Homo sapiens: one gene and its partner. The protein of the gene in region 1 purifies or fractionates together with the protein of each later gene. This does not show direct contact. Each region holds a gene or a part of one and is shown on either strand. Other genes may lie near its edges. The genes, in order: BPNT2 and PON2.

The links.
Region 2: the proteins of BPNT2 (region 1) and PON2 purify together in Homo sapiens (affinity purification with mass spectrometry; 2 studies listed by BioGRID and IntAct, with this or other methods). This does not show direct contact.

The regions. Positions count from the first base shown.
Region 1 is NC_000008.11:56,976,159-56,984,366, forward strand, and holds part of BPNT2 (Golgi-resident adenosine 3',5'-bisphosphate 3'-phosphatase), read right to left. Parts: intron 4,040-8,208; coding exon 3,877-4,039; intron 1,988-3,876; coding exon 1,892-1,987; intron 1-1,891. UniProt on the Homo sapiens protein: Exhibits 3'-nucleotidase activity toward adenosine 3',5'-bisphosphate (PAP), namely hydrolyzes adenosine 3',5'-bisphosphate into adenosine 5'-monophosphate (AMP) and a phosphate.
Region 2 is NC_000007.14:95,417,447-95,425,654, reverse strand, and holds part of PON2 (serum paraoxonase/arylesterase 2), read left to right. Parts: intron 1-1,069; coding exon 1,070-1,140; intron 1,141-1,966; exon of another isoform or gene 1,967-7,339; intron 7,340-8,208. UniProt on the Homo sapiens protein: Capable of hydrolyzing lactones and a number of aromatic carboxylic acid esters. Has antioxidant activity. Is not associated with high density lipoprotein.

The DNA of each region.
Region 1 (8,208 bases):
CCCCTTTTACCCTTTCCACTGGTGAAATACAGCTGAAGTGGTGAGCCATCCTCAGTTACACAGAGGAAGACAACAGCAAAGCAACAATAGAGATAGAACTGCATGCCTGGCACCAGGGAACTACCTTGGCAGTCATGGGCTGCTTATATACTGTCTGTTAGAGAAGAGAAAAATAAACTACTTTGTATTCAACCTCATATATTTTGGTGTACATTACAGCAGTCTAAATTAACGGCCTAGTGTGTATCCTAACTAATTCAGTAAGGATTAAGGAAAATATGTGAAGGTAATCCATAAGCCATAAAGCAATTATATAATTAATCTTACAGTATATTGTCATAGCAATGGCATAAATCTTTTGTAGCTTATCAAACCATCAACTTTAAAAATTATTTGAATTATGAAAAGAAGAAAAAAGGTCAGATAGCACAAAGTGGACTTGATTTTGAAACACAGAGCCAACACTCAAATAGATGTTTAGCCAATCTCAGAGCAGCCAGAATTTGGGATTCACAGTTATTCAGCAAAACAAATACATAATTTTAGAGTAATCAAAAATTAACTTTGTCTTTCCATTTCTCCCCACTTCACAGACAGCCTTTTTATGCAATTATCAGTCACGCCCTTAAGACACAATGGGGATGACTGCAGTAAACGATGGTAGTATGGGATGCCCATTGTATCAGTGTCCTAAAGCTGCCATAAAAAACTACAGGTTGAGAATCCCTAATCCAAAATTCCAAAATCTGAAATGCTCCAAAATCCAGGAAAGCACTGACATGATGTCACAAATGGAAAATTCCATACTGGACCTCATGATAGCTCACAGATAGAACTTTGCTTCAACCATAAAATTATTTAAAATGTTGTATAACATTACCTTCAAGCTATGTAAACAAGCTATATATGAAATATAAATAAAGTTCATGTTTATACTTGGGTCCTATCTCCAATATATCTCATTATATATATGCAAATACATTAAATCTGCAATGTGAAACACTTCTGGTCCCCAAACGTTTCAGATAATGGATACTCAATCTGTACCACAAACTTGGTGGCTTATAAAAATATATGTATTTTCTTATAATTCTAAAGGCCAGAAGTCTAAAATCAAGGGGTCAGCAGGGTTAGTTTCTTCTGGAGGCTTTGAGGGAAAATAACTTCCATGGCTCTCTCCTAGCTTCTGGTGACTGCAGTCCTTAGCCTATTAAAGACATCACTCCAATCTCTGCCTCCACCTTCACATCATCTTATCCCACATGTGTCTATGTCCTTTCTGTTTCTTATAAAAACACTCTAATTGGCTTAAGAACCTTCTCTAATCCAGTATAATCTCATCTCAATGCTTACCTTAACTTTCTGGGTTGTTATGGTTAAACTGTGTCCCCCAAAAAGATATGTTGACATCCTCACTCCCAGCACCTTGAAATCTGACTTTATTTAGAAATAGGGTCATGGCAGATGTACTACGTTGAGATGAGGTCACACTAGAGTAGGGTGGGCGCTGAATCCAATATGACTGGTGTGCTTGTAAGAGGAGAAGAGACACAGACACACAGAGAGAATGCCATATGATGATGGAGGCAGACACTGGAATAAACACTTATAAGCCAATGAACACCACAGAATGCTGGCAAATTGCCAGAAGCTAAAAGAAACAAAAAAGATACTCCCTTACAGTTTCAGCACCACGATTTTAGATTTCTAGGCTCCAGAACTGTCAGACACTACATTTTTGTTGTTTAAGACACATAATTTGTGTTTTTTTCTTACAGCAGCCCTAGGAAACTAATATAGGAGTGGATACAAATTTAGGTACATGACAGTAAATACTATAGACAAACAGTTCAATAACAATAATTCTTGAAAGTTCTAGCAAATTTCATACCTGTATATTCGGAAAATGGCTTATGTATAACTCCTAGCATGGGTTTACCATTTACAGCCACACACACCATAGTAGTGACGTACTTTCGAAGATCCTCTATGAGAAAAAAAACAAAACAACACACACAAATGTCAAAGTAATGTGCATAAATTCAAGATACAATATTACACTTTAGTTCATTAAAAAATTTATATACATGAAATATCTTTCCAAAACAACAATCCCTTCAAGCAAACAGAGTCTGAGGGCAAGAGCCCCTTTAAAGGAGTGGCTAACAGTTCTGGTTCACGATGAGATACCATCTCACACTAGTCAGAATGGCTATTATTAAAAAGTCAAAAAATAACAGATGCAAGTGAGGTTGTGGAAAAAAAGGAATGCTTATACACTGTTGGTGGGAGTGTAAATTAGTTAAGCCACTGTGGTAGACAGTGTGGCAATTCCTCAAAGGCCTGAAGAAAGAAATACTATTCGACCCAGCATTCCCATTACTGGTCCAAAAGAATATAAATCATTCTATTATAAAGACACATGCATGTGTATGTTCACTGCAGCACTATTCACAATAGCAAAGACATGGAATCATCTTAAATGCCCATCAATGATAGACCAGGTAAAAAAAAAAAAATGTGGTACATATACACCGTGCAATACTATGCAGCCATAAAAAAGAACATGATCAGGTCCTTTGCAGGGGCATGGATGGAGCTGGAGGCCATTATCCTTAGCAAACTAACACAGGAACAGAAAACCAAATACCACATGTTCTCTAAGTGGGGAGCTAAATGATGAGAACACATGGACACATAGAGGGGAACACCACACACTGGGGCCTTTCAGAGGATAGAGAGTGGGAGGAGGAAGAGAATCAGGAAAAATAACTAATGGATACTAGGCTTAATACTTGGGTGTTGAAACAAATCTGTACAACAAACCCTCATGACACAAGTTTACCCTATGTAACAAACCTGCACTTGTACTCCTGAACTTAAAAGTTTTAAAACAAATTGCATTTAGAGTCAAGACCCTTTTATATTATAAAAATCACACAAACAAAAGAGTTCTGGTTCTACAGGCATTACCTGGGTTATTCTCCTAGCCCACCATTTTGTTAACTGAATGTCCTTGAGTAAATTACTTAAATTCAGCTTCCTTGTCTGTATAATATAAACAATAACTAAGCACTCATCTTTAGGTATAAATTAACTTTTAATAAAAAAAATCAAATTAGATGCTTAAGAAAGTCCCTGCACGAGGGATGTGCTCACTAAATGTTATTACTATATGAACAGGCCAATCTCAGTTTAGGAGAACTTTTTATGAACAAATTTCTCGATATTCCATATTTCTATTATCTACTCCTGAAAAGTTCTGTGCTGTAATTTTAGTTACTATTAGATATATACATCTAGTGTCTTCTCCCTGTTCTCCAAAGTTATGTATTGATTGTTATGGTTCAAGTTCAGTGCAAAAGCACTGAAATACAAAGGTAAAAAGGTAGAAGGCTCCACATTTACAGAACTTACCATCTATCAGGATAAATAGATAAACTGTAACATATAAACCAAATGAAGAGTGAAAAGGCAGAAATTAGCTACCTGTGGGTAAGAAACAAGGCCTGAGAGGGGATCTACAAAAATAAAATCTGACTAGGACTAGGTAAAAAAGGGGACTGGAGGGACAGTAGTTCTGTTTTGTTACTTACTTGCCTTCTGGGTACCTAGAAATTTACTATTTTGAATTCCAAAGTCAGATGTACATGCATTAAAACTTAAATTCCTAACATCCCGAGTAAACATTAAATTCTGGCTAAAGAAGTTTCTTCAATTATAGGTGTCCAATATAAAACATTTTGCTACTACTGTTAAAAATGCTTCTTTACTGAACAATCAGTGAGCCACTATCACCTATAGGAAGTATGCCTTGGTTCTGGTTCTCTACTACTAAACGTCAATCAAATGTTTTGAGTTCAGTTTAAAAATTACCTGTATATTCCTGTGTAGCATCAAGTGGGTCAATCCAGACAGTAACACTTTCTGCTGGTACCTCTTTAGGAGTAGTTACTTCCTTTAGGATATCCTCAGGAATCTTATGATCCCACAAGATAACCTCCTGATCAGCTGCATCCACGTGTTCCTCAGTATTAATCTGCATTAAAAACAGGTGACAGTTAAAAAAAGTAAGACGAACAATCACTATTTGATAAACTACAAAAGTATTTCAGACAACAATCACCCAAATTATAAATAAGTAAATCCCTATTTTTATTTCTTTTGATGCTCCATATTGCAAAATGAAAATGAAAATGAAAAAAAAAAATCCATGACATCAGGTCTTTAAATGCTTCCCAATCTAATATTCAAGCCTGGTTTGTTGACTAATCAAGACAGATAATTCGGATATAGAGAAATATAGAGAAACTGAGCATTGAAGAAACAAGCTACTTAAACCTTAACAATGCTTTATGAAAGATAATAGCTCTAAAGTGTGAAAATAGACAATATTCTGGAACACAACACAAGCAACTAGAGTTAGAAGAAAGACGTATCATAGAATAGGGAGGTACAGTCAAATTTTCTACCTTTTTTTTTTTAACTAAGGAACAAAATTAAAAGATAAAATAAATTTAACTTACCATACAGATATGTAAGGATGTGGGGTAAGGAGAGAAATATAAGTAGAGGAAGGGTTGTTACGAGAATAGAGGAATATATTCTCTCCTTAAGGAATATATTCTCTCCTTACCCCACACCCTTACATACATACATATACACACACACACACACACACACACACACACACAAACCCCCCTTACACATATATATTCTCTCTGTATAATATATATTATATATTATTTCTACATATAACATATATATACATGTGTTTGTATAATACTTTATGTAAGTATTCTATTCATTTACAAACACATTACAGATTCCTTTAAATTGAGATTGCTCAATTTGGCACGACTGACAATTTGGACTGTATAATTCCTTGTTGTGGGGCTGTCCTGTGCATTGTAGGATGTTTAACAGCATCCCTGGCTGAATGCCACTAGAACGCACCAGATGCCAGCAACAACACCCTCAGGTGTGACAAACAAAAATGTCTCCGGACATTGTCAAGTGCGCCCCTGTCCCATCCTATGTAAAAAACACTGTTTTCAACAGTGTGCTTCTTAATGCATCCTAAAATTAGTCTAATTTGTAAAACAGTGTTTTAAAAATAATGTTTTGGCCAAGTGTGGTGGCTCACGCCTGTAATCCCAGCACTTCGGGAGGCCGAGGCGGCTGGATCACGAGGTCAAGAGATCAAGGCCATCCTGGCCGACATGGTAAAACCCCATCTCTACTAAAAATACAAAAATTAGCCAGGCATGGTGGTGCGTGCCTGTAGTTCCAACCACTCGGGAGGCTGAGGCAGGAGAATCACTTGAACCCTGGAGGTGGAGGTTGCAGTGAGCCAAGATCACGCCACTGCACTCCAGCCTGGCGACAGAGCAAGACTCCATCTCAAAAAAAACAAAAAATAAATAATAATAAAAAAATGTTTTAGAACTGCATTTACTTTTGTAAACTGGCATATACCAATTGACTAAATCTAAGAATTGAGTGTTCTTTAAGAATTAAGTTAATAACAGATCATCAATCTTATATGAATACTGCCTCACCATGAGACTTCTATCACATCATCATACACACACACAAGAAAAAATGTCCCCAAAATTTTGATTTTAGTTAGGGACTTACACTCTCAGCAGGACAGGCTGTTGGGTCCTGTGCTTTCTGACAAGCTCCCTTTCCAGAGTAGGTCATGTTTATGCTACATGTGATGCCATGCCTAGACCCCACGCTACAGTGCCAAAGCGATTACAGCACTGACAATACATGAGTATTGTCAATACAACATCTCTCACCTATAGTCTTCAGAAAGTTGCAGAGACACAGACATGATTTTAAAAAATATAACTATCACCAATCTCCAGAAGGTACCCTGAAACACCCCAAATTATCACAGGAGAGGTTAAAAATACTAATATTCTAGAAACATCAAACCGCTTAAATCATTAAATATCTCTTTTTTTTTTTTTTTTGAGACGGAGTCTCGCTCTGTCACCAGGTTGGAGTGCAGTGGTGTAATCTCGGCTCACTGCAACTTCCACTTTCCGGGTTCGAGTGATTCTCCTGCCTCAGCCTCCGAGTAGCTGGCACTACAGGCACCCACCACCACACCCAGCTAATTTTTGTATTTTTAGTAGAGACGAGATTTCACCGTGTTGGCCAGGATGGTCTCGATCTCCTGACTTCATGATCTGCCCGCCTCGGCCTCCCAAAGTACTGGGATTACAGGCATGAGCCACCGCGCCTGGTAAATCTTTAAATATTTCTCAGTACAGAGCAAAGTAAACATTCAATTTATTCACTTATGTCTTTATTAATTCAGCAAATGCTTATTGATTGCCTACTATATGACAGACACAGTTACAGGTCTTAAAGATACCACAGTGATCAATGTGAGACAAAAATTTCTGCCCTGTGGAACTTAGATTCTAGTATAGATAAACAACGAGACACATGAAAAAACATGTAGTATGCTGGATAGTGATAAGGAGGAAAAAATAAAGACCAAAAGGACAGAAAGAGTGTTGTTGGAGAGTAGAGAAAGGACTGTTAGAGAGTAGTGGAAGGGTTATTCTTTAAGAAAAAGGGGTAGATAGTATTAAGAAAGGGTGGCTAGGCAATTATTCATAATGGCTAAAATCAGAAAACTACTAATTCCATCAATTAGTAGTTTATCCATTACCCTGATGAATGGATAAATATATTTGGTATATCCATACAATGGAAAGTTACTCAGCCATATATACGAATAAAGTATTGATCATGCTAAATCATGGATGAACCCCCTTGCTTTGTGAAAGCATCAACATACAAGAGATCATATACTGTTTGATTCCATTAATGTAAAATGTCCGGAAAGGCAAATCTATAGAGAAAGACCGATTAGTGGTTGCCTGGGATAAGGGATAAAAACAAGAATAAACAGTTAATGGGGTCAGGGGTATTATTAGGGTGGTGAAAATGTTCTAAAACTGATTAATGATGATAGTTGTACAATTTGGCAGTTCTAAAAATTACTGAATTGTATACTTGAAATAGACAAATTGTAAGATATAAAAACTATGCTGCAATGAAGTTGTTTTGAAAAAAAAGTAATGTAGCTAGAGAAGCCCCTCACTGAAAAGGTGGTATTTGACTGAAGAGATCTAAAGAAAATAAGCCTGGCAGGCATCTAGAAGTGCATTCTAGCCCAATAAATAACAAATGAAAAGATCCTAAGGTGGGAATGTGCCTGGTGTGTTCAGAGGGCAGCAAGGAGGCCAGCAAGGCTACAGCAGAGTGAGCCAAGGAGAAAGGCTAAGGAGCTGAGGTCAGAGAGTAATGGAAGCCAGATGGTGAAGGACCTCGCAGGCTGCAACACAGAGCCAGTTGCCCTCCATCATAACAGCTATTAACAATGTGCAGAGGGTCCTAGTCATTGCAGTAAGCTAAAGGGAGGGGGAGAGGAGCAAGTGGGGAGGTACAAAGTTTAGAAAGAAAAACCAATCCATAATATGAAGTTGATTATTGAGCACTGAGAAAATCTAAAAGAGCTTGCAGATAAATGCAACTCCAATCAAAATCCCCAGTGTTTTTTGTTGTTGTTGGTTTTTTTTAACCTTCTCCTTGGAAACTGGACAAGGCATTTCTGAAAATTACATGGTAGAACAAAAAGTCAAGAAGCAACACAACATTTTGGGAAGAGGGGAAAAAAAATACCATCATGGTGTGGTGACTTACCTTACCAGATATCAAGACCAGAATAATTAAGACAGTGTGGCACTGGTGAGGCATTTTGGCTTCAGAAACCACTCTTAACAACAATGCCAGACTACCTCAGATGAATGAAGATAACAGTAACACCATGCAAAAAGGAATAAACTTCAAAAAAAAAAGAAACATGACTCCTAGAAAAGACGAAGTAGCTTATGGGCCTTAACCACTGTAGCTTACAAAACGGCAGTGCCAAGTCTGGCAACTACTGAGCTTCACTGATTTTTTGCACAATTCAAGTCAGCTTCTCCATGTACTTGCAGCTGAGTATGAGCGAACACATTATAGAACAGTATTTGAAAAGATCTTCACTGAGAATCGGGTTAGGGAGAAACAGCAGGAGAACAAGAACATTAGCACAAATACCTAATCTGCTTTTGAGTAACTGCTATTTATAACCGGCCGCAACCACTACATACCTACAAATCTGAAAAATCTACTACC
Region 2 (8,208 bases), on another chromosome or scaffold:
CCCCAGTGTCTAGACCTCAGAAGCTGTCAGGAATATGCACAGGAGAAGGACACATGGCAAATAGCTATTTCGTCTCTTAAATGTATGGTATGTGGGAACCACTGAAAAATGTAAAGTTTCTACAAGGTGCTATTTTTATTATTTATGGCTCTAGAGAACAGAGAAGGTGAAAAATGTGAGAGAGAAGGGAAAGCCAATAGTATGTGGCCTTCAAAACAAAAGATCCCACAGATATTGTCCCAAACTGCTTCCTGGCCCTCTAGAGTGGAGAGGGAGGGGGAAGACATCCTATTAGAGTTCAACATTCTCTTATTATTTCCTTCTTTTAATTTTCTGGGTATACAACAGCAAATAGTTTTGCTGAAGTAGTTACAGAACTAGTTGGTGTTCTCCAACCTTCCTATTCCAATACATACTGTCATGGATGGGTACACTAAAATCTCAGAATTCACTGCTATATCACTCATCCATGTAACCAAAAACCACATGTACCCCCAAAAGCTATTGAAATAAGATAAATACATTCTTATTTAAAAAAATACTGTCATAGGGATGCTACCTTCTTTTCTTTTTTGTTAGTAACTATTTGTGGGATGTCTTTGGTGTGTCAGGCTCTGAGCAATGCCATTTTCTCTTGGCTTCTTTGCAGTCTCTGTGTGAGGCTTACAGTCATTTTTCACGTTTGACTCTTCAGAAGGAAGACAGGGCTACTGGTTCTACATCTGGAACTCTTTTCCCACAACACCAACACTGAGAAATGTGACATGGTGCTGTGTTTACATTTGCATAGGAACTTGCATTATAAGTTTTATTTGTTGAGTTATTGGCTTTTTTTTTTTAATAACCCACATCAGTATATAGAACTTTGCAATAGGCATTTTTGTTTTAACTTCATTTCTGGTGCAGTTTTATTTTCCTACCCTTGTCTTTCTATTTTCTCTTTCATCTGCTTTAGACTTAAACTGTGTTTTATGTATTGCTGTAAGCCTCTTTAAACCCTTTCTAAAACAAAGCAGGGAATACATAAACAAATAGTTTTTTGTTTTTTGTTTTTTTTTCTTTGTAACAGAAATCGACTTAAAGCCTCCAGAGAAGTAGAATCTGTAGACCTTCCACACTGCCACCTGATTAAAGGAATTGGTATGTATATGAAAATGCTTGTTGGGCACATTGCATTTTTTGGCCATTAACATTAAAACACTCATTAATGGCATTTTAGCATGAAATTACTGCTTTTCAGTGGATAAATCACATTAGATCAACAAAAACCTCTTTGGTCAACCTCTTGATCTGATGAACCCTGTATTTATTCTTCTTTCCTACCCTCACTGTAAATTATTCTTTTTTGTGTGTAATTCTATGTTTAGCATTTGATTTCTTGCTTGTTTTGTGACTTCTCTGAACTATTTTTGTTGCGTCTGTATTGTTTGTCAGGTATGGCCGCTGCAGTCTGTGTTCTGTGAGCCTTGTGGTCAGCTAGTGAAGGAAGCTTTATGTAGGCAGTGACAGCATTTACCCTGCTCACTACTCTATAACTAGGATCTGATCTTATGGCTAACACGTAACTGACCAATATGGTTTGGTTGTGTCCCCACCCGAATCTCATCTTGAATTGTAGTTCCCATAATCCCCACGTGTTGTGGGAGGGACCCAGTGAGAGGTCATTGAATCATGAGGTGGTTACCCTGTGCTGCTGTTCTCGTGATAGTGAGTGAGTTCTCATGAGATCTGATGGTTTTATAAGGGCTTTTCCCCCTTTTGCTCGGCACTTCTCCTTGCTGCCGCCATGTGAAGAAGGGTGTGTTTTCTTCCCCTTCCACCAAGATTGTAAGTTTCCTGAAGCCTCCCCAACCACACGGAACAGTGAGTCAATTAAACCTCTTTCCTTTATAAATTACCCGGTCTCAGGTATGTCTTTATTAGCAGCCTGAGAACGGACTGATGTACCGGCACTTCACAATATGTATTGTAAAAACTTGTTTTTATTTTATCTTCTAAGCTATGACTGCAGAGGGGGAGTCTCCCTCTTCCCTTGACTTTATGTAGGATGTATTGTGGAGTCTGAGTCTTTGAGTAGGGGTTCCTAAGAGCAAGCCCCAATTTTGCTATAGATAAGGAGGGATCTGTCCAGATTCTTCTCCAGCACTGAGGGTCTCTCTGGTGTGTTTGCAGTTTTTCTCCAAGGTAGAGTCTGTGTCTTGCTGTCTTTTACCCTTTATCATCTACTAAGTACATGTCCCTAGTACATAATAGACTAGTAGTTAGATTATCAATGAACAATAAATATTGGCTTTCCTTTTTTTTAAATTTTAATTTTTTTTTTTTTTTTTTTTGAGAGGTGGCCTCACTTTGTCACCCAGGCCAGAATGCAGTAGCGCAATCTTGGCTCACTGCAGCCCTGATATCCTGGGCTCAAGCGATCCTCCCGCCTCGTCCTCCCAGGTAGCTGAGACTACAGGCACATGCCCCCACTCATGGCTAGTTTTTTATTTTTGTAGAGACAGGGTCTTGTTATGTTGTCCAGGCTGGTCTTGAACTCCTGGCCTCAAGCAATCCTCCCAGCTTGGTCTCCCAAAGTGCTGGGATTGCAGGCATGAGGCACTGAGCCCAGCCAATATTGGCTTTCCTTAGATATGGTTCATGGTATGATTAGAAACAAAAAGAATTAGCAGTCAAAACACCTAGTTTCTAGTTCTATTCTGCCACAATGTAACCTTAGGCAAAGTTGGTTTTTGTATTTGTCACCTATAATGATGAGTTTGTGATTAGACTAATGGTTTTTAGACTTTAAAAAGCCTGGGACCATTTATTTATAATCTTACTCTGAGAGCCACAGTGTGGAAATAACTAGACTGTCATTGAGTCACTTCTAGTCCTTTACAACAACATCCTTCTCTAGAGGTAGGAGAGACAATTTAATATTTTGTTTTACTCTTTAGAAATTAAAACTCGGGTTACATGGAAATGTTCTCTTCTCTGAATAGGTAACATTGTTAAACAAGTTTTGAGTGTCCTTCCATCTTTTTCTTTTTATGAATACTCCTGTACATAATTTTTAAAAACATAAGTGAGGTCAAATTATGCATAATATTTCAAAACTAGCTTTTTGTACTTAATACTAGGTTTTGGAAACTTATGTTTGTACATAATGTTACCTTTTCTTCACAACTGCACAGTATTTTTTGTGCAAAGTTCATATAAACAGTGTATGTGCAAACAATATAGAAAGATATAAAATGGAAAGTAAATAAAAATAAAAATCTCTCATCAAACTCTTCATCACCCCCAACAGAAATAACCCCAAAGATAAAGCTCCCTTTTTTATCTTTCCTGATAGTTTCAGTGCATTTGCAAACAAATATATTGACTCTTTTTTTCACAAATAGAATTTTAGTGTAAATATTTCACAACCTTCTTCATTCCTAAAACAGTGTGAGCAGCTTTCCACATCAGCATATATAGTTACTTTGTTCTTTTTAATATTTTCACATTCCATGATTTATTTAACCATTCCCCTTTTAATGTACATTTGGGTTGTTACAGTTTTTTGCAACTATGAACAAATCAGTGAACATCATTGCTGTTGAGTTTGTGTGTCTGTAGAATATGTCCTTAACAATGGGATTGTTGTTCCCTTAGAATATGTGTTTAGAGTTTTGACAGTCATTGCTAAGTTGCTCTCAATTTGGCAACAGTAATAAACTCAGTACCTCATAGTTGTAACCACATTCACTCCAGACAGAGTTCTCAGCACTCTTTTAGTAAAAATAAACCATCAGTTGACAGTGCCACCTTCAGAGTTTCTCTACAAATACCTTGCTTGCCTCCCTTTCTTTTTTTCTTCTTTTAAATCAGCTTCCTCAGGTTGATCTGCCTCTCATTCCTTAGGCATCTGTTTCCTATGTGTTCTTTCTCCTTTTTTTCATTGATACTTTTGTATTTCCCCAGTTCTACCTCCCCTCCCCTAGACTGGTTGGCTGTCCTGGAATTTCCCTTCCTTCTTTCAATTGCCCAAACACTAAGTGGGAGGAGGCAAACTCATATCAAATAGCAGATTGACTACATCTGTGCTGGATCATGCAGACAGTTCAAGAGTCCCAAGTAACTTAGCAGCTTCATCTTGCCTTCCAGCTGCAATCAAGAAGAGCCCTCTCAGAACTGGTCACTCAGCAAAAGCCAGATGGCATTAGTAAAAGATGTTGGGCAAGGGTGGGAGTTTGGGCCAGTGATCTCTTAGGTTACTTTTGCTGCTGAGTTAATAATTGTCACATTATTAAACAGCCCTTGGCCCTGGGAAGCCCACCTTCTGTGAATACAAGTCTCAGAGTAGACAATAGGGCACAACCAGCCATGTTACATGACAGACTGCCAAGTGCATTCCTCTTACAACTCACTGGGATGGAGCGCTCCTCAGAGAAAAACAAGCCCAGCAACATTTGTATTCTGAACAGGCATCTGTCTATGTTTGTGACCTTTATGTTGTGATGTGTGTGAGCTGCTGTCTGGAATTGGAAAGAATGAGGAAATATGTCACCTATGGCCCCTCTTGTGAAGTGTTAAATGCCTCTGAGGCACTTCAAAAGGCAACAGAGCGGAGAGGATGAGTGATTAGAAGCACATTTGGGATACATTTTTAGATCTAATTAGAATTGTCCTTTTTTTTTTCTTTTTTGCTTTTGCCCTGTGGTTAGCACACACCATATGAACGTTTGTCGAATGCTATGTTAGTGATGCATAATGGTTAATAATAACTTTTGGTTATATATCTTTAACAACAGTTGCTTATTCACAGGTCTTTGATAAGAAGAAATAACAATGTGCTGGACACACATTTCTATACAGGCAAAAGTGACTTTTTATGATAGAGAGGGCTGTTTCTTATTTTCTGTTTTGAAAACAGTAGTAGCTATGCACTTGAGGCCAACTAATCCCTCTAAGAGGTGAACCTTCCTTCCCCCTTGCCCTTGATTCCCATCAACACACACATACATATGCACACACTACCGTGCTTCAGTCACCATCACTGGAAGTGAACTATGTGCAACTTTTGGGTGCTTTATATATATCATATCATATTGTGTCTGCTTTAATAAATCATAGTTATTGACTACATATCATACAGGATGTGTGCCTTCTGTGGGTCAGAAAATAAGTTCACTATTTAGTCCTTTTCAAAAATTCCTTCCCGATCTATCTTATAGACAGAAACTAAGCTTTTATACACCCAAGATTTGGCAGATTAACATCTGCATATTAAAATGTCAAGAGCTAGTTAACTTTATTTGAGGCTTAAAAGTTAAAAAATCTGATTTTCTAAATGTCTGGCCTTCAAAATTTGAGTGGACTGTCTTTCTCAAGATAACTAACAATTTTATGCACTTGGCAGTCAAGACCTTTACAATAACTGCTGCTTGGGAGATTGAGGGGAAAAAAGCATTAAAGTTTGTGGCCCTTATAATCAAGTACTTTACAGTCTACTGATGGGAGAAAAGGAAAACAAAACAAAACAAAAAACCACTGTGAGATATAGATATGTCTTTTCTTTCTCTAGCAGATAAGTACCTGAGGCTCAAGGAGGTTAAGCAACTTTTGCAAATTCACTTTCCAATATAGTGTCTTTTCCCAGGGTGACTAATGTATATACTTGATGAGTGAACCAGAAAAGTAGGAAATAATATGTTACATATGGGATGCTCTATTGGGTATAGTAAAGGATGCGTTGCTGTTATAAAATTATAGTCACTTAGAAAAGAGATGTTTATTTTTATTTTTCTCTCATCAGTCTTAAGGTAAGTGAATGGCCTAGGGTAGTTAGGTGACTGTGTTCCATATGGTCATTCAGGGGCAAATGCTGATGAAGCAACACAGCTGTCTTCATCTAAGACTAGAACTCTGCTTGTTGCCATTTCCCAGCAGGAAGGGGTTGAAAGAAAATTTATGTAGATTTTTTTTTCTACCCAGTAGTTGCATATATATTGTATTCTCACATCCTATTGACCCAAACTTAGACATATGGCCACATCTGTCAGCCAGAAAGGGTGGGCAATGTTATCTATAGCTGTGTTGCTACGTGCCTATTGCTAAAAAGGCTAAAAAGGAAGAAGGGGAACATGGATGCTGGTGAACACTTGGCCACCTCTGACACAGATAATTGCTAAAGTAATAAGAAGAGATGGAAATTAAATGTGCTAAGCTAGGAGACTTTCTAAAGAAAGGGTTTGTCATGCTACGCTGTGCCATTCATGTGTTTTTTTGCTCATGCTGTTCCTTGTGCCTGGAAATTCTCCCCCTAATTCCCCTGAGCAGTGGATGCAGTGGATACCCTCCCCAGATCCCCCCCAACTTCCCTGAGTGTTGGCTACCAAAAGCTCTGAGTGCACCCAGGGAGCTAAGTCCTCCTGCCCACAGGCAATAATGGACTGACACGGGGTAGACTTAAAGAAATAAGAGGCACATCAATCAATTGAAATGTGTGGGACCTTACCTGGACTCTGAATTAAACAAACTGTAATTTTTTAAAGCTACACCTTTTAAACATGATTGGCTATTTGAACACTAACTAGATATTTGATGATATTGAGGAATTATTGTGAATTTTTAGTGTAGTAATGATATTGTGGTTTGTATAAATATATTTAGGGATAATATGATGCCTCAGATTTGCTTTAAAATAACACAGGATGAGGATAAGTGGTAGGACTGCAAGGGAAACAAGACTGGCCATGAGCTGATAACTGTTGAAGGTGGGTACTGGGTATATAAGGGCTCACCACACCATTCTCTTGATTTGTGTCTATTTCCCATAATAAAAAGTTTAAAGAGAGAGAACCGATGAAGGGGAGGGAGAGAGTCAAGCACACAATAAGAGTGACAAACAGTGCCAAATCAGCCCACAGTATTAAGTTTTCACATATTTACATAAATATCACCTGGAATGCAATATTGAAATTAATGTATATCACTAGAATAAAAAAAGTAAAGATTTAATAAATTTGTTTTGAAATAAAATAAGTTGAAATACGAAAAAGACAGAAAAGGTTTTGAAAGAGGTTTTAAAGAAAAGTGCAGGATATTCATTGGTAAAGATGTTGGTGAGAGGCTTGGAAGCAAAACTTCAGGGGAAAAAGACAACATATGGAATTGACCACAATTGAATTTACAAGTGAAGTGGCTTTACAGAGGAATCAGGGGATGTTTCTGAGAGAGGAAATTCATTAAATTCTAACTTGAATATTTTCTGTTTGCCTTTAAGTCAGAGCAAAGGCTTTGAGTCCCAGCTTCCCAGTTTGTGACCTTGAGCAATTGCTTAACTTTTCCAAAGCCTCCAATAGTCTTCACTCTAAAATAAAAGATAATCATATGAGATATTGTATGCAGGGTATTTACAAGGAGCCTGGTACTTGGTGTACCTAATGTATGTTAGTTATTATTATTAAATTAGAGGAGCAAAAATTTCTCTAGCATTGACTGCTCCTGACATAATCACACCGAAGAGGGGATACACGATGATAAAACCTTCCTGCAGTAGTGGCTATAGAAATGATGACGGGGAGAAGATCTGGAAAATATTCCAAAGAAGGCTACAGATAGATACATTTTTTCCATTGGAATTAGGCAATGGAGTTAAACAGAAGTTACAATATGGTTGAAATAAATGTATTTTTTTAAAAAAAGATTTCTCTTTCCTTAATTATTAAAAAATATACAATTTTGTAGAAAATTTTAAACAAAGTATAAAGAAAAAAATAAAAATCATTCATAATCCTATCAAAGAAGCATTGTTAATTTTTTCTATATATCTTCTTTTTCCACGTGTATACTTGGAAATTAAATTTTCTAAAATAATTTTCAGGAAAAACAAATTTTAATTAATTGAGCTTCTACTAAATAGGACTGAAAAGCAAAACCTGGACTAGAATTCTCTCTCGGTGTGTGTGTGTGTGTGTGTGTGTGTGTGTGTGTGTCTGTGTGTACATGTGTATGTGCTGTGTATACATGTGTATGTGGTGTAGCGTTCCCCTGATTCTTAACTTATTACCAGTGGACAACCACCGTGGAACTAGAGTCTAGTCATTCTTAACCTTTTTGGGGGAATCACAGTCTCTTTTTTGAATCTGATGAAAATCAAGGACCGTTTTTACAGAAACGTTCTCATCTGTGCATACATGAGACATTTTGCATTGCATAGAATTTCCGAGGGTTCACAGA